Linked DNA regions of Homo sapiens. The protein of the gene in region 1 purifies or fractionates together with the protein of each later gene. This does not show direct contact. Each region holds a gene or a part of one and is shown in the gene's direction. Other genes may lie near its edges.

Region 1 (3,500 bases):
TCTAGCCACATTTTTTTCCAACGAAAATGGGGTCCTTATATTTTTTAGAAATATATTTATTAGAAAACTTTTAGTAGGGGTGTATTGCTGGAGATGAAATAAAATGTGAGAGTGGAAAGAAAGACTAGGAAAATAGCCTCCCAAATACAGAAAGCAGAACAATTCGGGCGGGGCGCGGTGGCTCACACCTATAATAATCCCAGCATTTTGGGAGGCCAAGGTAGGAGTATCACGAGGTCAGCAGATCGAGACCATCCTGGCTAACACAGTGAAACCCTGTCTCTACTGAAAATACAGAAAATTAACCGGGTGTGGTGGCAGGCGCCTGTAGTCCCAGCTAATTGGGAGTGCAGTGGCGCAGTCTCACAGCTCACTGCAGACTTGACCTCCTGTTCTCAAGCAATCCTCCCTCTTCAGTAGCTGGGACTACAGGCACATGCCACCATGCTGGCTAATTATTTTATTTTATTTTATTTCATTTATTTGAGACAGAGTCTCACTCTGTTGCCCTGGCTAGAGTGCAGTGGCATGATCTCGGCTCACTGCAACCTCTGCCTCCCGGGTTCAAGGGATTCCCCTGCCTTAGCCTTCCAAGTAGCTGGGATTACAGACGCCCGCCAACACGCCCTGGCCTCCCAAAGTGCTAGGATTACAGGCATGTGCCACCACGCCCAACCTGTAATTTTTTTTTTTTTTTAAGACGGAGTCTCACTCTGTCGCTAGGCTGAAGTGCATTGGCTCAGTCTTGGCTCACTGCAACCTCCGCCTCCTGGGTTGAAGTGATTCTCCTGCCTCAGCCTCCCGAGTAGCTGGGACTATAGGCACCTGCCACCACACCCGGCTAATTTTTGTATTTTTAGTAGAGACGGGGTTTCATCATGTTGGCCAAGATGGTCTCGATCTATTGACCTTGTGATCCACCCGCCTCGGCCTCCCAAAGTGCTGGGATTACAGGCGTGAGCCACCGCGCCTGGCATAACCTGTAATTTTAAAAAGAAGCTAAATAACAGGTAGTAAAAGATCTCCTTAAACCAACTACTTGGTCAAATTATATTAATCTTTTTATAGCTTTTAATTTATATAGCCAAGCTGTCTTCTGGAAGCTTGTATCAGTTTTTACTTCCACCAGTGATACAGTCAAGTATTCTACAAACACACTGGAAATTATGCTTCTTGTCCAACTGAGAAATGCGTATATTTAAATTAGTGCCACTTTAATATTTAGGAAATAATTTCAGGCTGGGCGCGGTGGCTCATGCCTGTAATCCCAGCACTTTGGGAAGATGAGGCGGGCGGATCACTTGAGGTCAGGAGTTTGAGACCAGCCTGTACAACATGGTGAAACCCCGTCTCTACTAAAAATACAAAATTAGCTGGGCATGGTGGCTCATGCCTGCAATAATCCCAGGCCGAGACAGGAGAATCTCTTGAACCCAGGAGGCGGAGGTTGTAGTGAGCCAAGATTGCGCCACTGCACTCCAGCCTGGGCGACAGAGTGATACTGTGTCTCAAAAAATAATAATAACAACTTCAGGAAAGTCTTTTTTTTTTTAATTTAATATAGATGTTCATGTTCTTGTAGGAAAAGCTGAATCTCAGTTGTATCCATAGTCCTGTTGTTAATGAACTTATGAGAGGAATTCGTTCACAAATGGATGGATTAATCCCTGGGGTAGAACCACGTGAAATGGCAGCTATGTGTCTTGGATTGGCTCACAGGTGAGAATTACTGGAAAATAAAGTCAACTTACTTTTATTTGATAAGCGCTTAACATAGATCTGTTCTAAGAATGTTACAAATGCTCATTTGAACCACATCAGAACCTTATGAAGAAGATGATAGTAATATCCTCATTTACAGATGAAACTGAAGCCCAAGGTCAATACAGCTGGTAAGTGGTAAAGCCAGGATTTGAACCCAGGCAGTCTGGCTCTATTGTCTGGATTCTTAAAACCTTAAAACCTCATCAAAGGAATTCTCTACTACTCTGATCTTGGATGCCCTGTTTCTTGGGCTTTCCCTCCTTTATCTCTGCTAAGTCATGCCACTCCTCCATCTACTTAGTATTCCCCCAAATTCTCTCATCTGCTATGGTCTTATGGGATAGGTGTGTATTTGTGTTTTCATTGCTTTACTCTGATTTTTAATAAGGCAAAGAGGACTAGGTGCAGTGGCTCACCCCTGTAATCCCAACTCTTTGGGAGACCAGGAGTTTGAGACTAGCCTGAGCAACATAGCAAGAAATATGTCTCTCTCTGTGTTTTTTTGTTTGTTTTGTTTTTGTTTTGTTTTTTTTGAGGCAGATTCTCACTCTGTCGCCCAGACTGGAGTGCAGTGGCGTGATCTCTGCTCACTGCAGCCCCTGCCTCCCAGGCTCAAGTGATTTTCTTGCCTCAGCCTCCGAGTAGCTAGGATTACAAGCGTGCACCACTACTGCCCAACTAATTTTTGTATTTTTAGTAGAGACGGGCTTTCACCATGTTGGCCTGGCTGATCTTGAACTCCTGACCTCAAATGATCCATCCGCCTTGGCCTTCCAAAGTGCTGGGATTATAGGCATGAGCCACCACACCCGGCATTTTTTTTTTTTTTTTTTTTTTTTTGAGTCAGGGTCTCACTCTGTTGCTCAGGCTGGGGTGCAGTGGTGCGATCTTGGCTCACTGCAACCTGGACATCCTGGACTCAAACAATGCCACCTCAGCCTCCCAAGTAGCTGGGACTGCAAGTGTGCGCCACCATCCCTGGCTGATTTTTTAACTTTTTGTAGAGACGGGGTTTTGCCATGCTGCCCAGGCTGGAACTCCCAGGCTCAAGTGATCCACTTGCCTTAGCCTCCCAAAGTGCCGCGACTGCAGGGGTGAGCCACCATGCCCAGTCTTCTCCCTATTTTTAATTGCATGTTAACCCTATCATATTTCATTAGAAGTCCCTTAGAATAGGCATTATTGCTATGTTGTGATACATCTGTTCATGAAAAGCTTAATACTTTGGAATTGCACTACAGTTAACAGGGTTGTGAAGAAAATAATGGTAGGTAGTTGCTCAAAACCTGTGCAACTTTGTAATCAGTACTGTCAAATAGTAATCCTAATAAAATTATTACCACAGTTCAAAAGACATTTTAAGCTAATATTAAAAGAAACACTACAGGCTGGGCACGGTGGCTCACGCCTGTAATCCCAACACTTTGGGAGGCCAAGGCAGGCAGATCACAAGGTCAGGAGATCGAGACCACGGTGAAACCTCGTCTCTACTAAAAATACAAAAAATTAGCCGGGCACAGTGGCGGGCGCCTGTAGTCCCAGCTACTTGGGAGGCTGAGGCAGGAGAATGGCGTGAACCCGGGAGGCAGAGCTTGCAGTGAGTGGAGATCGCTCCACTGCAGTCCAGCCTGGGTGACAGAGTGAGACTCCATCTCAAAAAAAAAAAAAAAAAAGGGAGAAAGAAACACTATAGGCCAGGCGCAGTGGCTCACGCCTGTAATACATCCCAGCACTTT
Region 2 (3,500 bases), on another chromosome or scaffold:
TGAGCTGGGTCCAGAGGCAGACCAGCCTGAGGTGGGGGACCCCAGCATGTACACTGGAAGGAATGGGGTGGCTCGTCCTCATGGCACCTGGACTGAAGCTTGTTGGGGAGGGTCCACAGAGCCCTTCCTTCCCCAGCTCTACTACCACCCTTGCCTCCTCAGGCTGCTAAATTCCGCCAGTTCTGGGGATCCCGCTCGGAGCTTCGGCGTTTCCAGGACGGAGCCATTCGGGAAGCTGTGGTCTGGGAGGCAGCCTCTATGTCCCAGAAGCGCCTTATTCCCCACCAGGTGGTCACCCACCTCTTGGCACTGTGAGTGTTGGCATCTGGATTCCAGAAGGCAGTGTGGGCTGGGGAGCCTTTTCAGGGGTCTGGCCCAGGCAGTTGAGCGAGAACATAGCCCCAAATTTTCTCACTGTGTCTCTGCCTCTTTTTCAGCCATGCTGACATCCCAGAAACCTGTGTCCACTATGTGGGGGGCCCCCTGGATGCACTTATCCAAGGCCTGAAAGAGGTAAGGGTCTTGGGGTCAAGGCTAGTGATTGTAGAGTAATCAATCTGCGGGGAGAGAGTCCTCTCAGCCTTGGCCAGCTTGCACTTCCTGGCATGTCCAGCAGGCGGCGGTGCTGGCTCTGCTGCAGCCTGAGCTGGGGCAGAATCCAGGTGAAGCTGGCCTTCTGTAGGGTCCAGCCTCCTGACCGTCTTCTCCCTCTCAGACCTCCAGCACAGGTGAGGAGGCCCTGGTAGCGGCGGTACGTTGCTACGACGACCTCAGTCGCCTACTGTGGGGGCTAGAGGGTCTCCCACTGACCGTGTCTGCTGTTCAGGGAGCTCACCCAGTGCTGCGCTACACAGAGGTGAGGTGCAACGGTGCAGGTGACCTTTCTGCTTAGTGGCCCCACCTCTGCTCCAGTCACCCAGTATTCCCCACTTCCAACTCCTGACTCTGGGCACTCCCTCCCAGTCCTAGGCCCATTCCTCAGCCCCTCTTCTTCCACAGGTGTTCCCACCAACTCCAGTCCGTCCAGCCTTCTCCTTCTATGAGACTCTGCGGGAGCGGTCCTCACTGCTGCCCCGGCTCGATAAGCCCTGTCCGGCCTACGTGGAGCCCATGACCGGTAAGAGGGCCCTTGGGAGGGAGTGGGAGGGATAGTTCCAGCTCCAGGCCACAGTATGAGACCTCTGACTCTTCTTCCTCAGTGGTTTGTCACCTGGAGGGCAGTGGCCAGTGGCCACAGGACGCTGAGGCCGTGCAGCGGGTCCGAGCTGCCTTCCAGCTGCGCCTGGCAGAGCTGTTGACACAACAGCATGGTCTGCAGTGCCGTGCCACTGCCACGCACACGGATGTCCTTAAGGTTAGGCTGGTGCAGGCAGATATGTCCCCAGGGAAGGGGGGCACCAGGGATGTCAGGGCGTGGAAGAAGACACCCCTGTGGGTACCACGCTGGGTAATAGGGCTGTAGGCCACAGAGTACTCCCGGGGTTCTGGGCTGACACATCCTTCTCTTTCCATACCTTCTTCCAACAGGATGGATTTGTGTTTCGGATTCGCGTGGCCTATCAGCGGGAGCCCCAGATCCTGAAGGAGGTGCAGAGCCCAGAGGGGATGATCTCGCTGAGGGACACAGCTGCCTCCCTCCGCCTTGAGAGAGACACAAGGCAGTTGCCACTGCTCACCAGTGCCCTGCACGGGTAAGGCCACTGACACAGCTTCTTCCTGTCTGTAGGCCCCCTCCTGCCCCCATTCTCCTCACCTAGCCACCTGTCTCTCCAGGGGCCAGATGGTATCATAGTTAGGGGTATGAGTTCTGGAGTCAGGCAGGTTCTGGAATCCTGGCTCTGCCACTTACTGACTGTGACCCTATGGTCAGATTTTCCTCCTTGGTCCCTATATTTGTCATCTGTAAAATGGAAATAACACTAGGGTCAACTTCTTGGTGCATTTCTTAAGAGAATATGAGATTACATATGTAACCTATTATCACTGAGGCTGGCCTTGGGTAGGGGCTGGATGAACAGTGGCAGTGGGGCCCTGAGTCTCGCTGACACTCCCCTTCTCTCTGCAGACTGCAGCAGCAGCACCCAGCCTTCTCTGGTGTGGCACGGCTGGCCAAGCGGTGGGTGCGTGCCCAGCTTCTTGGTGAGGGTTTCGCTGATGAGAGCCTGGATCTGGTGGCCGCTGCCCTTTTCCTGCACCCTGAGCCCTTCACCCCTCCGAGGTGATTCCCTCCACTTTTTCCCCAGCTGAGAAGTTTCCTTGCGGCCAGCCATCATCCTTCGTGCTGCACCCTAAGTCTACATGGGAATGGGTGGTTGAGCAAGTGGCAGAAGGGGTTCTAAGATGCCCTGCCCTGCCAATCCACACCAGGGGGTCTGAGCTCCATAGCCTGAGAGAAGCCTGGGGATATGTGGCTGGGCCCTGGATTCTTTGCTTACTCCAGCCCTTTAGTTCCCCCCAGGTTGGCTTCCTTCGATTCCTTTTCTTGGTATCAACGTTTGATTGGAAGAACAACCCCCTCTTTGTCAACCTCAATAATGAGCTCACTGGTAAGTGGTAGAACAGGGGTCAGACTGCTGGAAGAACAGCTCTTTATGGATTGCAGGCAAGGGTTTCCCTGGCAGTGTTAGGTTTTCTCTGTGCCTCCCCAGCCCCAGATGTCTAAGCCTGACATGAAGAAGAGGTCCAGGTGAACAGCCTGACCATTATGACATGGTTTGCTCTTAATTGTCAGAGACAGAATGATAGGGTGGTAAGCAAGCTACCTGGCGGGGGGCTGTGGAAGGAAGAGGAGAATAGAAGGGGGATCCTGAATACCACGTAAGAAGTATTAGGGCACGGAGCTAGGAAGTGTAGCACAGATACTCAGACCTCTTGGTGGGGGTGGGAGTGGTGATTTCTGGTTGTAACGTGAGGCACTCGGTCTCTGCAGAGAGCAGGGTGTCAGGTTCCTAATTCCCCAGGTGTGTGGAAGCCCATGGTGGGAGGGGGCCAGGGGCAAGACTCAGCTTGTGCAGGCCCGGAAACCAGACTGGGGGTGCCAAGCAGTGGAAAATTTTGCCTCTGGGCTGAGGTTGGGCGATTAATGCCCCACCCAGTTGAGGCAAATGCGATGTCCCTTTCGTCACCTTTGCCACTTGGTGGGGGGGAGTGTTGAAAAATACCTGTGATGAGCAGCCGTTGGGGGCACCGTAGGAGGACCTGGGGGAGTAGAGGGTGTCTTACAGGGAGGAGCAGGCTGACCCAGGACCCATTCTTGTCTCTAGTGGAGGAGCAGGTGGAGATCCGCAGTGGCTTCCTGGCAGCTCGGGCACAGCTCCCCGTCATGGTCATTGTTACCCCCCAAGACCGCAAAAACTCTGTGTGGACACAGGATGGACCCTCAGCCCAGGTTCAACCCCATACCTGCCCCCTAATGTGTGGTTTTCTTCCCAAGGAAAAAGCAGGCCCAGCCTGACCTGGGAGAGACCCACTTCAGTTCCAGTCTGATGTGTCTGTACCCC
Region 3 (3,500 bases), on another chromosome or scaffold:
GCCAGATCTAAGGAGCTACAATGGCTTCATGCCAAAGCTAGACAGCAGGATCAACTTGGGAATGGAGGCAACTTGAGTCAATGAAAAAGACAGTTTAGAAGCATGTCACTGCCAGGTTTCCCTCCAGACTGTTTTGAGACAGGTCTCTGTCATACAGGCTGGAGTGCAGTGGTGCAACCTCGGCTCACTGCAAGCTCCACCTCCCAGGTTCAAGCAATCCTCCTGCCTCAGCCTGCAAGTAGCTGGGATTACAGGCATATGCCACCACGCCCAGCTAATTTTTGTATTTTTAGTAGAGACAGGGTTTTGCCATGTTGGTCAGGCTGGTCTCAAACTCCTGGCTTCAAGTGAATCACCCATTTCGGCCTCCCAGAGTGCTGGGATTACAGGTGTGAGCCACTGTGCCAAGCCAGCCCCTCCAGACTCTTGAGACTAGTGTTATTTGCTCAGATGTTGCCAGTGAAAGTGTGAGCTACATCCACTGGATAAAGCAGCTACTTCATCCCTTGACTCAGCCACAGCAGATTATGAAATACTGCTTTAAGATATGGAGTAGAAATTCTTGAGTCAAGATGAAAATCCTGGATAGGGTTTTTACAAGCAGTGAAGCATAAATTACAATGAAGTTACATTGAGAAGCCACCTGTTAAAGTGGCTTCCTTTTTTAAAATTTGGAACTTGGGGCAATCTTCCCAAGCAGGGTTTACTGCACGAGGAACTTAAGCCACAGTCCCAGTTATACAGTGGATCATTGGCAAAGCTGGGAATAGGACCCAGGACGTCTGCTTCCAATATGCTACTTTTTTTTTTTTTTTGAGACGTCTTGCCCTGTTGCCCAGGCTAGTATGCAGTGGCACAGTCACAGCTTCCTGCAGCCTTGACCTTCTGGCTCCAGCAATCCTCCCAGCTTAGCCTCCCAAGTAGGTGGGACTACAGATCCACACCGCCATGCCTGGAAATTTTTTGTTGTTGTTGGAGGGGTGGAGGTGGTAGAGATGAGTTCTCACTATGTTGTTCAGGCTGGTCTCGAACTCCTGGGCTCAAGCTATCCTGCCCCCTTGGCCTCCCAAAGTGCTGGCATACAGGCGTGAGCCACCATATCCAACATCTCACATGCTACTTTTTTTTTTTTTTTTTTTTTGAGACGGAGTCTCGCTCTGTCACCTAGGCTGGAGTGCAGTGGCACAATCTCGGCTCACTGCAACCTCTGCCTCCCTGGTTCAAGTGATTCTCCTGCCTCAGCCTCCTGAGTAGCTGGACTACAGGCACATGCCACCATGCCCAGCTAATTTTTTGTATTTTTAGTAGAGATGGGGTTTCACCGTGTTAGCCAGGATGGTCTCGATCTCCTGACCTCATGATCTGCCCGCCTCGGCCTCCCAAAGTGCTGGGATTACAGGTGTGAGCCACCGCACCTGGCCACATGCTACTTTTAATTACCAAACTCCGTTGCCTGCTATGATTAGTGTACTGTCTAGGAGATTCAATGTACAGAATCTTCTTTTCCCCGTTTGTCCTTTTTATAATGTCTTATGTGGTACCTAGCACTTGGTGGGTGCTCAACAAATGCTTACCGACCAGACAACGTACAAACCTCATTTTCTGACAGTTTTCATTCTTTTTTCCCCCAGATTCTGGCAGCCAGGAGGTGCTGTCTGAATTGAGAGTACTATCTCAGAAATTGAAGGAAAACCATCAGTCCAGGAAGCAAAAAGCAAGTTCAGAGGGGACTATTCCCCAGGTCCAGAGAGAGGAACCTGCCCCAGAAGAAGAGGAGCCCCTGTTGCTACAGAGACCAGAGAGAGTACAGACGCTGGAAGAGCTAGAAGAGCTGGGAAAAGAAGAATGTTTTCAAAATAAGGAGCTTCCCAGACCTGTGTTAGAAGGGCAGCAGTCAGAGAGGACCCCAAATAATCGCCCTGATGCCCCTAAGGAGAAGAAAAAGAAGGAGCAAATGATCGACCTACAGAACCTCCTAACCACACAATCTCCCTCCGTGAAGTCTTTGGCAGTTCCCACAATAGAGGAGCTGGTGAGCAGAGCCAGGGTGGTGGGCCATTGTTCAGAAAGTGTCGTTCTTGCGCAAGGAGTAATGAAGCTTTGTTTTGCTGGGGGCACATTTCAGTAGTTTAGAGGTCCAGAATAGTATAGGGCCAGGCTAGTCCCAGTGACGTTTTAATAGATGCAGATATATGGGTGCTGCCAAGACCCCTATTTCCGAAAGCCTGATCCACAAAAACTCCTCTGGGGTGACTCTAAAACTGCTCTCAGAGGTAAGAGGGAGTAACTCAGAGTTCTGACCAGATCCCAGGCAGGACAACTTGAAGGTGAGTCATTGAACTGTTGCGAAAGTTTTATTCAGTGGGATCTCAGATGGTCTAAGACTCCCCAGTTAATCTGAAACTTAAAGTGAAGCGTCCTGGCACCTGTCTTTTCAGGGATATAAGCTGGAGGAAGCCTACAGTCTGGCCACTTAGAGCTCCTGCTGCTAACACGGGCCATTCCTTCCTCCACCCTGCAGCTTCCTTACTGAAAAGTTTAAAATTGTGTCATATGATAATGAGCTAGGGATATTTACCCTAGAGGGAAGAAAATTTGAGCATGATTGGCTGTGCACTGGTTTGTATCGCAAGACCATCATTGTTCAGCACTTCCCCCTAGGGGGCGCTAAAATGTCACGACCCGAAATTCAAGCGTTCTCGCCATGAACCACAGCTCATAAGCCAAGCTGTAGCTCTCGCTTGTTTCTTCCCAGGAAGATGAAGAGGAGAGAAACCATAGGCAGATGATAAAGGAAGCTTTTGCTGGGGATGATGTCATCAGAGATTTCTTGAAAGAGAAGAGGGAAGCTGTGGAGGCGAGTAAGCCAAAGGACGTGGACCTGACACTACCTGGCTGGGGCGAGTGGGGTGGTGTGGGCCTAAAGCCCAGTGCCAAGAAAAGACGCCGGTAAGAATGCCGAAGAAAGTCTGTCAAAAGGGCACCGGGTTCTCCCCTCGCCCTTCGGTGTCCTCCCTACCCTTTTGACTAAGTCCTTAATGCTCCTAGTCAGATGTCCTGTTGTTTTGCTTTCCAGGTTTCTCATTAAAGCCCCTGAGGGTCCTCCAAGAAAAGATAAGAATTTGCCAAATGTGATTATCAATGAGAAGCGCAACATCCACGCAGCTGCTCATCAGGTGAGAGCTTAGAGAGCTCTTTAGCTGCCTGCTTGTTACTGCCTGGCTCTCTTGCTTGAGAGGAGTATTCTAGTGATCTGTAGTCAAGAGAGACGTGTGATCTTGACCGCAGAATCAAATCTGTTGTTTTCACTGAATGGCTGTTAGATTTATCATTTCAGATAGACTACGCTGTTTTAATTACTGGCCAGGAAAAAAGTTTAGAGTCAAGGTAATGCTCAAACAGAGGCTATAAGGTTTAAGCTGTAGCTTAAGAAAAATGAAGACAAACCGGTACTTGTTCAGGAGAATGAGAAGATTGTAAGTTGTGTCACATGATAATGA
Region 4 (3,500 bases), on another chromosome or scaffold:
CATTTGAGAAGCTTCTCAAACATTAATGTGCATACCAGTCACCTAGGCATCTTGTTAAGTATGCTTGTTGTGATTTTTCAGTAGGCCTGGGTTGGAGTTTGATATTGGGCATTTCTAACAAGCTCCTCAATGATGCTCATTGTTTGAGAAACATATTTTGAGTAGCAGCGCCCTGGAACACTCTCATACATTAGAAATAAACTGTTTCTTTGAGAACTAAGATACCAAGAAAGTATTTCAGGGGCTTCCAGGACAAAACGAGTAAAAACAGGACGCCTGTACTGTTTTAATCAAGGCAGCTCTGCTTTTATTTTCTTTCTCCACTGGGTTTCCAAATAAGATTTCAATTAAAAGCTGTCAATGTAGAAGAAGGGGACTTTGAACTCTTGAGTACAGATAATATAACAGAGATTAGTTTGCTGCTGTCTGAAAATGTTGGGTTGAAAAGGCCCCAAGAGTACAGAAGAGAACAGGATCCCAAAGTTCTTTAAGTAGCCAACTAAATTATCAGATAATACCTTTCAGAAGTCAAGATTTTGGATTTAGAATTTTTAAAAACTTGAGGGAGTCCCTCCCTTTTCAGCCTCTTAGTAACTGTGGGGCCTTGAACAAATCAACTTCCTTTCTCTGGGCCCCAGTTGTATGATGTGGGGAGTTGACCCGGGTAAACTACGGAGCCTTTCCAGTTGTACTCTTCCAAAAATTGAAAAGACAAAGCCATCAGAATTATCATTATTCTAGTGAAGCTTCTATCTTTTCAAAGCTGTTATCATAATTAGAAGATGACGTTTTCCATTTATTTTATATAAGACATAAACATTTGTAAAAATGGTTTTTCGTTTTTCCTGGTTGTCTTCGAAAAGTAAAGTAATGCTGAAGCAGGTGGATCCCTTGAGGCCAGGAGTTTGAGACCAGCCTGGGCAACATGGTGAAACCTCGTCTCTACTAAAAATACAAAAATTAGCCAGGTGCAGTGGCACCCACCTGTGATCCCAGCTACTCAGGAGGCTGAAGTGGGAGCATCCCTTGAGCACAGGAGGCGGAGGTTGCAGTGAGCCAAGATTGCACCACTGCACTCCAGTCTGGGTGACAGAATGAGACCCTGTCTCAAAAAAAAAGTAAAGTAATGTCTTGCATTTATCAAATGTGAGATGATTCTTTTGTGCGTTTTGAAACTGGCATATTTAGAAATTGACATAATTTGAAGTTTATGGTAACTGGTTAGAAGTTTATGGTAACTGGTTAGTGCTTTCTCAAATACAAAATGTGTTCCTGTTTTATGAAAGAAACTATTCAGAATGATTGTAATCAGAGATTAGTTCTCAGTAATGAAAAGCAGATGGCCTCAAGTATAACATTTTTGTGTCTGTAGGTACATGAATGTATGCGGGAAGTTTTTACCGAGAATATTACACTCAGTATATTTTCCAGGTTTAATATATTTTTGGTTGTTTTGAAACTCCCCGGGTCTCTGAAATGGCAAATCAGATTCTTCTTGCATAAGTCTTTTGCTCATAAATTTATAGAGATTTGTGATCAGTTTTCTTACATTTTTAGTGTTTCCCAGGAGGAGATTAGCAACATAGTATGTACTAATAGGCTTTAGAATCCATTTCTTAGTCTTTTACCGTCTGCAAAATGGAGCTCATGATAGCTACCTTGTAGAGTTGTGGCCTTTTAGTGTATTAATTCACATAGGCAGTAACTGGCATGTGGGAAGGAATCAGTTTATAGTAGCTATTGTAAAAATAATACATCTGTATCATTAAAAAGTTTAAAGGAAAAATATCACCTATAATTCCACTATCTAGAGTTGACCACTAATAAAATTTCGTAACATTTCCTTCTAATCATGTTTTCTCCTTTTTTCATCTAATAAAGTAAAACATAATATAAAATACTTAAAACTATATAAAGTGACATGACTCTGCTCAAGTTAAACATTAATTTTTTATGAATAAATGCACCTCCTTTTTTCCTGCAGCTAGATTTTCCATTTAGCAATACATTGTGAACCTCTTTTCTTGTTAATGCAAATCTGCCTCATTCTTTTTAAATAGGGTATTCCACCTTTGACTATATCTCATTTCATTTAATTATTCCGATATTCATGAACATTTATTTTATGTCTTGTTTTTAATTATTATACATAACACGGTATTAAACAGCCTTGAACAAATTGTTTTGTGTGCTTACCTGACTTTTTTTTGTAGGATCAATTCCTAGAAAGCGGAATTACTGGATTAGAGAGTACAATGTATTTAAACTTTTGAGAAAAACTCTACATTGTCTCCATAAAACATTACCACTTTGTACTTTCATCAAGAAAGTATGAGTGCCTATTTTAGTTATACCTTAACTTTTGTTGAATATTACCAAATTTTTTTGTGGGCAGCTTTATTAGAGAGGTTGAGCTCTTGGATTTTTAATTTCTTGTTAAGACATTGCCAGATGTCCACTGCAGGAGGCAGAATCACCCCCATTTGAAAAGCACTGATTTACATAAATACAGAAGATGTACTTATTGAATGTATAGTTCTAATCTTTTCTTGGTCCAGATAATTAACATAATGTAGACAGAATCAGGATTCTGGTGTTTTATACTTCACCTTTAAGAGGAAAAAATAGACATTTAAGAGTTACTTTGTTTGAGATATTTGTGTCTTATCAGCTGTTCATATGAAAATGAGCAAGGTTTTAGATGATTGCAATGGTATTTGCTGGAAAGAGGGAAGAAGGGGAAATGAAATTTTTTCAAAGAATTCTGTTCAGCTCCCATGCCCCCAGTATTCTAAGAGACTAGTTTTCAATACTTTTTTCTATTAACTTTTCAAAAGTTGGTTATAGCTTTGACTCTGATAAATGTAAATTTTCATGTTGTCTCTACTATTTGATTATACATTAGGTGACCTTGGGCAAAATCTGACTTACCAGGTTATTGAGAGGATTAAATGAAATTTTAATACCAACTAAAGTAGTACCTGGCACATACTAAATAATATACAGTGACAATGAAAATTTACATTCCCTTCACTGAAATCCTTAGGAATATGCCACATTTACTGTATATTCCATTCACCCCTCATAGGTCTGGGATAGCACTGTGTAATCAAACAGTACTATTTGTGCAGTGAAACCTATAAATGTTTACCTTATAATGGGTAAATAATGACTATAGATTTATTCAGTTAGGTTTTGCTGCTGAAGGAGTTAAAAATCTTTCAGTTTTGGAGATTTTGGAATTGTTGATATGAGAAGTTGGTCTTGTCCTAAGATTATTAATACTCCCTAGGTATTAAATTGATTGCTTGTTTAAGCAACTTGAGTTGCAATATAGTCAAAATCTCAAGTTGATGTCGCTTAAAATTTACATGTTTTCACTTTTGAGGAATCTGAATGAAGAATCTTTTGTACTGTTTTTGTAACTTTTCTATAAAGTCTACATTTATTTTTTTTAAAAAAAGTTTTAAATGTAAAAGCCCGTATATGAAGTGTGATGA
Region 5 (3,500 bases), about 25 Mb from region 1:
TAGTTCTGAATAGTTTCTATATAATTAAAAAAAAAAGTAAAACCAGCCACCATGGGTGTTCTTAATGAAATAAAAATTAATGAAGTAATTTTATTATGTGTAAACCATACCGTTGAAAGAAAACCTAAACTATGTGTAGTATTAATTACATATAGTGATTTGACTTAAAAAATCAAATTGATAATGGGTTTTGTAAATAAAAAGTTGTTTGTGACATTTGAAAGAAGATAAAAGTAGCAAATATTAATATAACTATATATCGTAATATAAATATTTATGTAAATAACACGGGAAGATTTTAAAAATTAAAGTTGTGAAAACTTTTACTTTCTTTTAGGATTCTAAGTTGGAGTAGCTTCTTGATCTTCTGAAAAACATAGACTAACCTATTAATATAAACTTTTTTCTCTTCTTAGGTCATGCTCTTAAACCTCAGGTTTCCTCTATTTTTACATCATTTTTGGACGGATTAAAAAAGTTTTATATTACAAAGGTAAGAATTTTTATAAAATGCTAAAATTGTAAATGCTTAAGATATCTGTTTTCTGCTTTCTTCCCACATGCACCTATTGTAAGGGTGTTTTTCCATGTTGCTATGTACATTTCAGAATTACAGTTTTTCATGTTGGAATAAATATTAAGTAAATCAGGCAGTCAATTTCAGAAAATTTTATTTCTTTTCCAGTTTTGAAGCTTCTAAAAATAACACTGCATTTGAACAGTTTTGTTTTCATAACATTTTCTATAGTTTAAATTTTTTCCTTTATGGAAGGTATCCATAAAGTGAAATAAGAGTGTGGATTTTTTTTAACCTTTGATTGTTGAATTTTTTTCCTAGAGTGTTAAGCCATCTTATAATACATGTGTGCCTTCTTTTCCTTGCATCCTTGTTATTCCATGTGGGATTCTTTTTGTTACATTTTTAATTTACCAGGGGGAAAACAGTACTTTCTTCTAGTTCATGTTTTTTGAAGCTCCAATGAGACTGAACGTTAACATTTTTTTTATTTTCTAGATCTAATTTTTGTGTGAATTCGTTGGATATGGTTATTTTTGCCAGGTGGTGGTGGGGGGTGTGCAGCTTCATGTTTTTTTCTTGGTACTTTGATGTATCTTTTTTTGAGATTGGAATTATTAGATGTCCTTTGTCATAAATGTTGTAAGTAATTTTTTTTCCCAGTCAGGCATCTCCTTTTTTAATAGGGATTTTTCTTTTTTGGTGTAAAAGTTTCAAATTTTTATATCTTTTCCTGTGATTATTTAATATAGTCTAAGCTTAGAAAAGCCTTCCTTCCTCCAGTAATATGATCAGGGCCATTTTCTTCACTCTCTCTCTCTTATACTAAATGAGAATTTAAAAAAAAAAAAGTCTTTATTACTATTTGTATTTATTTCAATTTTATTATGTGAAAAAGATCTAAATTAATCTTCACCTCCTGCTCCTCCAATTGTTAACCGGTTGTGGCAGCACCATTAATTAATCTGTGCTTCTCATACATTGATTTGCTATGCCTCATATCTTATATACTTATCTAAGAAATAGATTCCATTTTAGTGCATCTCAGTCTTTTTTAATGAGCTTTTTGTTCTTGAAAAATTAAATAGATTTCATTGTTGTAGGTCTATTTTTCCCTCTTGCTATTCAGAATTTTCCTTGTTATCACCATCACCTATTATTCTAGAAAAATTTTAGAAACTTTTCATCATTTTAGGAAGTTCATTGTGTTTTTTAATTAGAATTGGAATAAACTAGTACATTAATTTGGAGAAATATTGACTGGTTTATAATACTTAGTTTATGCATTTGGGAGCATACGTCTTACTCATCTTTTTTTGGATGTGTTTTAGATATGTTTCCTAATATATTTCTTTTTAAGATTGTTAGATACTGTTTTTGTTTTATGCATAAGATCGCCTTTGAAAACTTTATTTAATAAGAAGTTATTGTTAGTATGTAGGGATGTTGTTGATTTTTGCTTCCCGCCCAATATATCCAGCTACTTTATTCTATCATTCTGCAGTTTTTTATTTGATTCTTTATCATAGTTATTATTTCAACAAGTTATTTGTTGTATTTACATAAGCAATATGTTATTATGATTAACACTGTGGCATACTTTGAAATAAAGTGTTTTTTTCTATGCTGAATAGCTTTGCTACGTTGTAATGACCTAAATAGGTTTATTAAACATTCTTAGTGATTGACATGTAAAGTTCCAAAGCTCAATTTTTAAGAAATCAGTGTATTTGAGCCCAGATCAGAAGGAAAAGAGCAAAATGTATTTTGATTTATTGTTTTGTAGGATAAGACTTATCTGTAATAATAAATTTTTTTTTTTTTGTAGTTTAAAGGATTTGACCCAAATCAGCTAAGTGTAGCCACATTACTGTTTGAGGGGGATCGTGAGAAGGTTCTTCAACATGAAAAACAAGTGTATGATATTGCTGCAAAATTTGGGTATGGCTTCAAGTTCATAATGCCAAGAGAAAGAGTTAAAAGCTAAGATTCTAATATCACCAAGCAATTATTAAAGTACTAGGCATTAATGTCTCCAAACAGACTGCATGTCTCAAAGTAGTTATTAATTTCAGTTTAGTGTTAAATTTGTGGTAATTTATGATAGTAAACTTAAAATATTGTTTTGGTTTACATCCAGAATTTTTAGGAAGTTAGATTGATATGTTGCTCTTGTCTAATCATATATATATTATTATTAAACATTGTATTTTTCCTAGATTTTTACATTAATGTCAATTTCATGATATTTGTTCTACTAGAGTAAAATAGAAAATTCATTGTCCTCTTACTCTGTGGTGATAATAGTGTATGTATAAAGCGTGCTACTAGTGTGTTTTTAAAAGGAAATTGTGTTTAATCGAAGGTATTTGATAAATTATCTATACTGCACCCCCTGTCACTTACTGTTTTGTGCTGGTATAAAGAAACAGAAAACATTTCACATCTATAACCAACTGAATAATGGTAGGGTGGTTTCTCTCTGTCTTCTTGATGGATTATAAGACTGATTGATGAGAACTATAGTGAAAATGCCATTTATCAGGACTATGTTTTTTCCTTTCCTTTTAAAGTACATAAACTAACAGTTTCTAGACACTAATCTTTTCTTTTTTGATTTCAGGGATTAAAATATATCATATACATTATGCTTAATATTAGTTCTTTGTAAATATTTATTTTCATTTCTTTTTCATTGTTTTTTAAGAAAACAAATGAACACTTAATTTGGACCCATGTGTTTTAGAATGCCCCACTTTTATGTATTTTTTTTCATATCTAATATTAGCCCTTTATTTCTAGGGTTGTCTGAATTTAGTGTTAACGTGCAGTATTCTTAAAGGGGAAAATAGTCTAATCTTAGACTTAAATTTTAGTTTTCTTTTGCACTATTTTTAAGTATTGAAAATGTCTCACTTTTACCCTATTCTGAAATTGGCAAATGGAATTTTAATTTTTTCAGTAAAAGAGAAAGTTTATTCAT
Region 6 (3,500 bases), on another chromosome or scaffold:
TGCTGTACTCACCTAGGTATTTGTGGACTGTAGTTAACTAAAGGTAACTGAAACTCGAGAAGCACAACCTCAGATAAGAGGGACTACTGTATTTAATATGTTTACATTTCTGTTTATGTTTACATTTCCCCAATTTTTGTCCCAAGAATTTTTTGTTTTTTCAAATCAGGATTCAGAGATTCAGAAGTTCATGTATCACCTGTGATTTTTATGTCTCTCTGTAAGCTTGCCATTTTGAACACTCGAATATATTACTGAAGTTAGCTTTGCAAACATTTCGTGCCTGATAAATACATCTGATGGATGTTTATAAACCAGTTTGAAAATTTACTTATTTCAAGGAAATAAACTTCCAAAGCAAATAGTAAATAATAATAGTTAACACTTACTGAGCTCTTAGGAATCAAAATGTTGACATTATTTGATTTAAGTTATTCTTAAAAACCGTTCTATGAGACAGTCTTTCTCAACCAGCGTTTCTCATTTGAACCACAGAACACAAAATCATTTAAATGACTGTTTTTCTAATGTTCTAAGGATGGTAGTATTCAAGATACATATGAGAAAATTTAATCTTTACAAACAATGGACAGATAACCTTAGAGGGCATTTGAGCTTATAAGTGGGGAAGTTAAATTGCTTAATTATATAATAAGTATTTGCAGTTAATTTGAATAGGTATTATTACTTATTATAGAAATATACCCTCGATGAGCATTTTATTTACTGGTAGCAATATTTTTTCCTCTCCCATTCCCACTTCCAACTTTATCCAGCCAAATTCTGAATTTGTTGAAATGCAAGTGATTTATACATTCTAAAGCCAATTCATTTTAATGATACAAATTATTCTTAAAAATCCAGTTGCTGCCTGTTTTTGCAAGTATTACTGTAACTACACTGTATCTTTTTCTTCCCAGAAACTTACAGCCTATTTAGATCTTAACCTGGATAAGTGCTATGTGATCCCTCTGAACACTTCCATTGTTATGCCACCCAGAAACCTACTGGAGTTACTTATTAACATCAAGGTATAAGAATGTTGACTGTTTTTGATGAATGATGCCTTCATAGTGTTCTGGAATTCCCTGTTGAGAAATTAGCCCTATAGGAGCCCATTTTATCAGACTGTAGTTAAGAATTTTACAAAGAGGAACTAATACTCATGGTTTTTGTTTTTAATGTTTTATATCTTGAAATTGAAATAAATTTCTCAAATAATGTTTTAAGTTTTCCTAAAGAGCCAGGGAGTAAATATTAGCCAACTACTTAATTCTGGTGCCATAGACAATACGTAAAACAGATGAACATGACTATATTCCAAAAAAAATTCTACTTATAAAAACAAGCCGGGGGCGGTGGCTCATGCCTGTAATCCCAGGACTTTGGGAGACCTAGGTGGGAGGATTGCTTGAGGCCAGGAATTTGAGACCAGCCTGGACAACATAGTGAGAACATAAACAAACAGATGGTGGGTAGTAGTTTGGCAACCTGTTCCATACCATAATGTGTAAGAATTTTGTCTTGTTTCTCTAGTCTACTCAGTGTATGTTCTGAGATAGTCATGTCATGTATTCTTTTCTGAATGTAGGCTGGAACCTATTTGCCTCAGTCCTATCTGATTCATGAGCACATGGTTATTACTGATCGCATTGAAAACATTGATCACCTGGGTTTCTTTATTTATCGACTGTGTCATGACAAGGAAACTTACAAACTGCAACGCAGAGAAACTATTAAAGGTAATACTTTTTAAATATTAAAGTGTTGGGCAGAAAAGTTCATTGCATTAAACTAGATTTAGGTGAAGCCTAGTCATTGTTACCAATATACCTGCCATGAGTGAGGTAATATTGTGTCGTTATATAATATTTCCAGGTTTCTATAGAATTATCTTAATTCCATTTAGTAAGTCCACTCTTTTCAGGTGGAGAGAAAAGGTCAATGTGAAATGTCATTGCCTTGAGATGATGGTACCTCATTTTCCATCTAGTTAGTCACCCTGTCCAACTTCCCATCCTACCACTTTGGTTGAGCCATACTGAAAGGGTTTTTATTATCCAGAGGGTGTCTTGGGACCAGCTCTTCAGCTGTGTTTTCAGGGATCTGGATTCTAAGCAGGCTGTTTGCCTTTTGGATCATATTGGGAATAATCACTGTCAGGGTAGTTGGAAAGGAATTTGGGTGAAGAACTAAGAGCATTGATACAACTAATGTTGTAGCTTTGCCAAATCATTTAACTTTTATTTTCTCACCTGAAATATAAGAATTACAGTATCTCCCCATTTCCTTTTAAGAGCATTGTGAAAATAAAAAGAAAGTACATGTGGCAGCTGTGGAAAGTAAGAAGTGCCATTCAGATACACTGTGGTGTGATTTCTTTGGAATTGTGTCACCCAGTAAAAGTGCTTTCCTGGCTTTTTGCTAGCATTTTAAATAATACTGTTCTCTCATCTCCGGCGGTTGAGTCATCTGAAACCAGCTTGATTTCTTTTTTTTTTTTTTTTCCAACTTTTATTTTAGATTCAGGGGTACATGTGCAGGTTTGTTACAAAGGGTATATTATCTGATGTGAGGTTTGGGGTACAGATGATCCCATCACTCAGGTAGTGAGCAAAGTACCCAATAGGTAGTTTTTCTTTTCTTTTCTTTTTTTTATTATACTTTAAGTTCTGAGTTACATGTGTACAATATGCAGGTTTGTTACATAGGTATACAGGTGCCATGGTGGTTTGCTGCACCCATCAACCTGTCACCAAATTAGGTATTTCTCCTAATGTTATCCCTCCCCTAGGCCCCCACCTCCCGACAGGCCCCAGTGTGTGATGTTCCCCTCTCTGTGTCCATGTGTTCTTATTGTTCACCTCCCACTTATGAGTGAGAAGATGCAGTGTTTGGTTTTCTGATCTTGTGATAGTTTGCTGAGAATGATGGTTTCCAGCTTCATCCACGTCCCTGCAAAGGACATGAACTCATCCTTTTTTATGGCTGCATAAAATTCCATGGTGCATATGTGCCACATTTTCTTAATCCAGTCTATCTTTGATGGACATTTGGGTTGGTTCCAAGTTTGCTATTGTGAGTAGTGCCACAGTAAACGTACATGTGCATGTGTCTTTATAGCAGCATGATTTATAATCCTTTGTGTATATGCCCAGTAATGGGATTGCTGGGTCAAATGGTATTTCTGGTTCTAGATCCTTGAGGAATTGCCACACTCTCTTCCACAATGGTTGAACTAATTTACACTCCCACCAACAGTGTAAAAGCGTTCCCCAATAGGTAGTTTTTCAACCCTTACCTCCTCCCTCCCTCCCTCCCTTCCTTATAGTCCTCAGTATGTATCATTCCCATCTTTATGTCAGTGAGTTCCCAGTGTTTAGCTCCTATTTATAAGTGAGAGCATTGTAAGGTAGGTATTTGGTTTTCTGTTTCTGTGTTAATTCATTTATGATAATGGCCTCCAGCTGTATCCATACTGCTGCAAAGGACATGATTTC
Region 7 (3,500 bases), on another chromosome or scaffold:
TAGCAGAATTTTGAATTGTAGTGGTAAAGTGGGCATTATTGCTTTGTGTTTGATCTTCTGGGGAAAACATTTAGTCTTTCACCATTAAGTCTGATCTTAGCTGTAGGTTTTTTGTAGGTGCTTTTTATCACGTTGTGGAAGTTCTCTTTGATTTCTCATTTGCTGAGAGGTTTTATCAGGGTTGGATGTTGGATATTTTTCAAATGCTTTTTTACTGCATATATTGAAATAGGTGGTTTTTCATTTTTAGTCTGCCAATGTGGTGAATGACATTGATTTTCAATTATGAAATTAGACTTACATTCCTGGGATAAACTGAACTTGGTCACAATATACTATTCTAATTATATTTTGTTGGATTTGATTTGCTAAAATTTTGTTGAGAATTTTTGAACTTATGTTCATGGGATAGTTGTAGTTTTCTTGTAATGTTTTGGTGTTGGAATCAGTAATGTAGCTTCAGAATGATTTCTGAAGTATTCTGTTCAGTTTTCTGAAAGAATTTATACAGGATTGACATTTTATACCCAACTTAAATTTTTGGTAGAATTCATCTGAGCCTGCACTTGTCTTTGTAGGAAGATTTTTGACTACAAATTTACTTTGTTTAATAGATTAGAGATATTTGTGTTACTTATTTTTTTCTTTTTTTTTTTTTTTGAGATGGAGTCTCGGTCTGTTGCCCAGGCTGGAGTGCAGTGGTGCGATCTCAGCTCACTGCAAGCTCTGCCTCCTGGGTTCACACCATTCTCCTGCCCCAGCGTCCCAGGTAGCTGGGACTACAGGTGCCCACCACCATGCCCGGCTAATTTTTTGTATTTTTAGTAGAGACAGGGTTTCACCGTGTTAACCAGGATGGTCTCAATTTCCTGACCTCGTGATCTGCTCGCCTCGGCCTCCCAAAGTTCTGGGATTACAAGCATGAGCCGCCACACCCGGCCACTTATTTTTTTCTTGAGTGACTGTTTTCTACTTGCAGTTCTATTAGTTTTTGTTTCATGTATTCTGACAATCAGTTTATGTGAATACATGTTTTATGGATTAAAATATTAGATTATTATTATATCCTCTAAATGAATTGGCTTGTTATCGTTATGAAATGGCCCCCTTTATCCTTAGTAATTTTTTTTTGTTCTAAAATGTCCTTTGGTATTGATGCAGCCAGTCCAGCTTTATTGATTAAGGGGTTAGCATGGTATGTGTTTTTCAATACTATTACTTTCCCTTATTTATATTTAATGTGAATTTCTTATAGGCAGCATATAAATGGGTCTTGCTGTTTAATCAGACAGTTCGTGTCTTTGAGTTGAATTATTGAAGCCAGGCATGGTGGCTCACATCTGTAATCCCAGCACTTTGGGAGGCCAAGGCATGTGGATCACTTGAGGCCAGGAGTTCAAAACCAGCCTGGCCAACATGGCGAAACTGTCTCTACTAAAAATACAAAAAAATAGCCAGGCGTGGTGGCATGTGCCTGTAGTCCCAGCTGCTTGGGGGGCTGAGCCACAAGAATTGCTTGAACCCAGGGGGCGGAGGTTGCAGTGAGCTGAGATTGTGCCACTGCACTCCATCCTGGGTGACAGAGTGAGACTCTATCTCAAAAAAAAAAAAAAAAAGAAAAGAAAATTAATTGAGTTACTGAGATTATTTACGTTTAATGATTATTGATAATGGTGGGTTTACTTATTTATTTTTTGACTGATAGCATACCTGATTTATTTATTTTTTTCACATTTCTGTTTTTTATTTTAAATTTTTTTTTCCTTTTCTATGTTTAGATGTTTATTTTTAATTTTTTTAAATTTTTCCATAAGTTATTGGTGTACAAGTGGTATTTGGTTACATGAGCAAGTTTTTTTGTTTGTTTGTTTTTTGAGACGGAGTCTTGCTTTGTCACCCTGGCTGGAGTGCAGTAGTGCTATCTCAGCTCACTGCAATCTCCACCTTCTGGGATCAAGCCATCCTCCTTCCTCAGCCTCCCAAGTAGCTGAACTACAGGCATGTGCCACCATGCCCGGCTACTTTTTGCATTTTTAGTAGAGACAGGGTTTCACCACGTTGGCCAGGTTGGTCTTGAACTCCTGAACTCAAGTAATCTGCCCACCTCGGCCTCCCAAAGTGTTGGGATTACAGGCGTGAGCCACTGTGCCAGTTTAGTGGTGATTTGTGAGATTTTGGTGCACCTATCACCCGAGCAATATACGCTACACCATATTTGTAGTATTTCATCCCTTGCCCCTCTTTCATTCTTCCCCCCAAGTACCCGGAGTCCATTGTATCATTCTTATGCTTTTGCATCCTCATAACTTAGTCCTGCATATCAGTGATAACATACGATGTTTGGTTTTCCATTCCTGAGTTACCTCACTTAGAATAATAGTCTCCAGTCTCATCCAGGTCACTGCAAATGCTGTTAATCCATTCCTTTTTATGGCTGCATAGTATTCCATCCTGTATATACCACAGTTTCTTTATCTACTCGTTGATTGATGGGCATTTGGGTTGGTTCCATGATTTTGCAGTTGTGAATTGTGCTGCTATAAAATTATGTGTGAAAGTATCTTTTTTGTATAATGACTTCTTTTCCTCTGGGTAGATACCCAGTAGTGGGATTGCTTGATCAAATGGTAGTTCTACTTTTAGTTCTTTAAGGAATCTCCACGCTGTTTTCCATAGTGGCTATACTAGTTTGCTTTCCCACCAGGACATAGAAGTGTTCCTTGTTCACCACATCCATGCCAACATTGTTTTTTTTTTGAGATGGAGTTTCGCTCTTGTTGCCCAGGCTGGAGTGCAATGGCGCAATCTCGGCTCACTGCAACCTCTGCCTCCCGGGTTCAAGTGATTCTCCTGCCTCAGCCTCCCGAGTAGCTGGGATTACAGGCATGCGCCACCATACCCAGCTAATTTTGTATTTTTAGTAGAGACGTGGTTTCTCCATGTTAGTCAGGCTGGTCTCAAACTCCCGACCTCGGGTGATCCGCCCATCTCGGCCTCCCAAAGTGCTGGGATTACAGGTGTGAGCCACTGTGCCCGGCTTTTTTTCTTTTTTTAAGTCAAAGGCTCACTCTGTTGCCCAGGCTGGGGTGCAGTGGCACAATCTTGGCTCACTGCAACCTCCGCTTCCCAGGTTCAAGTGATTCTCCTGCTTCAGCCTCCTTAAGTAGCTGGGATTACAGGTGCCTGCCACCATGCCCGACTAATTTTTGTATTTTTAGTAGACATGGGGTTTCACCATGTTGGCCAGGCTGGTCTTGAACTCCTGACCTCAGGTGATCTGCCCACCTCAACCTCCGGAAGTGCTGGGATTACAGGCATGAGCAACCGTGCCTGGCTGCCAACATCTACTGTTTTTTGATTTTTTGATTATGGCCATTCTTGCAGGAGTAAGGTGGTATCACATTGTGGTTTTGCTTTGCATTTCCCTGATCATTAGTGATGTTGAGCATTTTTTCATGTTTGTTGGCCATTTGTGTATCTTCTTTTGATAATTGTCTATT

What was found.
Region 2: the proteins of NOP58 (region 1) and NOL6 fractionate together in Homo sapiens (co-fractionation; one large-scale study listed by BioGRID). This does not show direct contact.
Region 3: the proteins of NOP58 (region 1) and UTP14A fractionate together in Homo sapiens (co-fractionation; 2 studies listed by BioGRID). This does not show direct contact.
Region 4: the proteins of NOP58 (region 1) and ZNHIT6 purify together in Homo sapiens (co-immunoprecipitation; 2 studies listed by BioGRID and IntAct, with this or other methods). This does not show direct contact.
Region 5: the proteins of NOP58 (region 1) and AGPS purify together in Homo sapiens (affinity purification with mass spectrometry; one large-scale study listed by BioGRID and IntAct). This does not show direct contact.
Region 6: the proteins of NOP58 (region 1) and ITM2B purify together in Homo sapiens (co-immunoprecipitation; one large-scale study listed by IntAct). This does not show direct contact.
Region 7: the proteins of NOP58 (region 1) and DDX24 fractionate together in Homo sapiens (co-fractionation; one large-scale study listed by BioGRID). This does not show direct contact.

The regions. Positions count from the first base shown.
Region 1 is NC_000002.12:202,282,763-202,286,262, forward strand, and holds part of NOP58 (nucleolar protein 58), read left to right. Parts: intron 1-1,582; coding exon 1,583-1,719; intron 1,720-3,500. UniProt on the Homo sapiens protein: Required for the biogenesis of box C/D snoRNAs such as U3, U8 and U14 snoRNAs. Part of the small subunit (SSU) processome, first precursor of the small eukaryotic ribosomal subunit.
Region 2 is NC_000009.12:33,463,925-33,467,424, reverse strand, and holds part of NOL6 (nucleolar protein 6), read left to right. Parts: coding exon 1-31; intron 32-162; coding exon 163-311; intron 312-437; coding exon 438-513; intron 514-715; coding exon 716-856; intron 857-999; coding exon 1,000-1,117; intron 1,118-1,199; coding exon 1,200-1,354; intron 1,355-1,527; coding exon 1,528-1,691; intron 1,692-2,065; coding exon 2,066-2,218; intron 2,219-2,448; coding exon 2,449-2,546; intron 2,547-3,263; coding exon 3,264-3,388; intron 3,389-3,500. UniProt on the Homo sapiens protein: Part of the small subunit (SSU) processome, first precursor of the small eukaryotic ribosomal subunit.
Region 3 is NC_000023.11:129,923,164-129,926,663, forward strand, and holds part of UTP14A (U3 small nucleolar RNA-associated protein 14 homolog A), read left to right. Parts: intron 1-1,631; coding exon 1,632-2,032; intron 2,033-2,755; coding exon 2,756-2,949; intron 2,950-3,076; coding exon 3,077-3,176; intron 3,177-3,500. UniProt on the Homo sapiens protein: May be required for ribosome biogenesis.
Region 4 is NC_000001.11:85,698,434-85,701,933, reverse strand, and holds part of ZNHIT6 (box C/D snoRNA protein 1), read left to right. Parts: intron 1-3,500. UniProt on the Homo sapiens protein: Required for box C/D snoRNAs accumulation involved in snoRNA processing, snoRNA transport to the nucleolus and ribosome biogenesis.
Region 5 is NC_000002.12:177,497,273-177,500,772, forward strand, and holds part of AGPS (alkyldihydroxyacetonephosphate synthase, peroxisomal precursor), read left to right. Parts: intron 1-416; coding exon 417-493; intron 494-2,345; coding exon 2,346-2,458; intron 2,459-3,500. UniProt on the Homo sapiens protein: Catalyzes the exchange of the acyl chain in acyl-dihydroxyacetonephosphate (acyl-DHAP) for a long chain fatty alcohol, yielding the first ether linked intermediate, i.e. alkyl-dihydroxyacetonephosphate (alkyl-DHAP), in the pathway of ether lipid biosynthesis.
Region 6 is NC_000013.11:48,257,206-48,260,705, forward strand, and holds part of ITM2B (integral membrane protein 2B), read left to right. Parts: intron 1-920; coding exon 921-1,031; intron 1,032-1,591; coding exon 1,592-1,742; intron 1,743-3,500. UniProt on the Homo sapiens protein: Plays a regulatory role in the processing of the amyloid-beta A4 precursor protein (APP) and acts as an inhibitor of the amyloid-beta peptide aggregation and fibrils deposition. Plays a role in the induction of neurite outgrowth.
Region 7 is NC_000014.9:94,071,203-94,074,702, reverse strand, and holds part of DDX24 (ATP-dependent RNA helicase DDX24), read left to right. Parts: intron 1-3,500. UniProt on the Homo sapiens protein: ATP-dependent RNA helicase that plays a role in various aspects of RNA metabolism including pre-mRNA splicing and is thereby involved in different biological processes such as cell cycle regulation or innate immunity.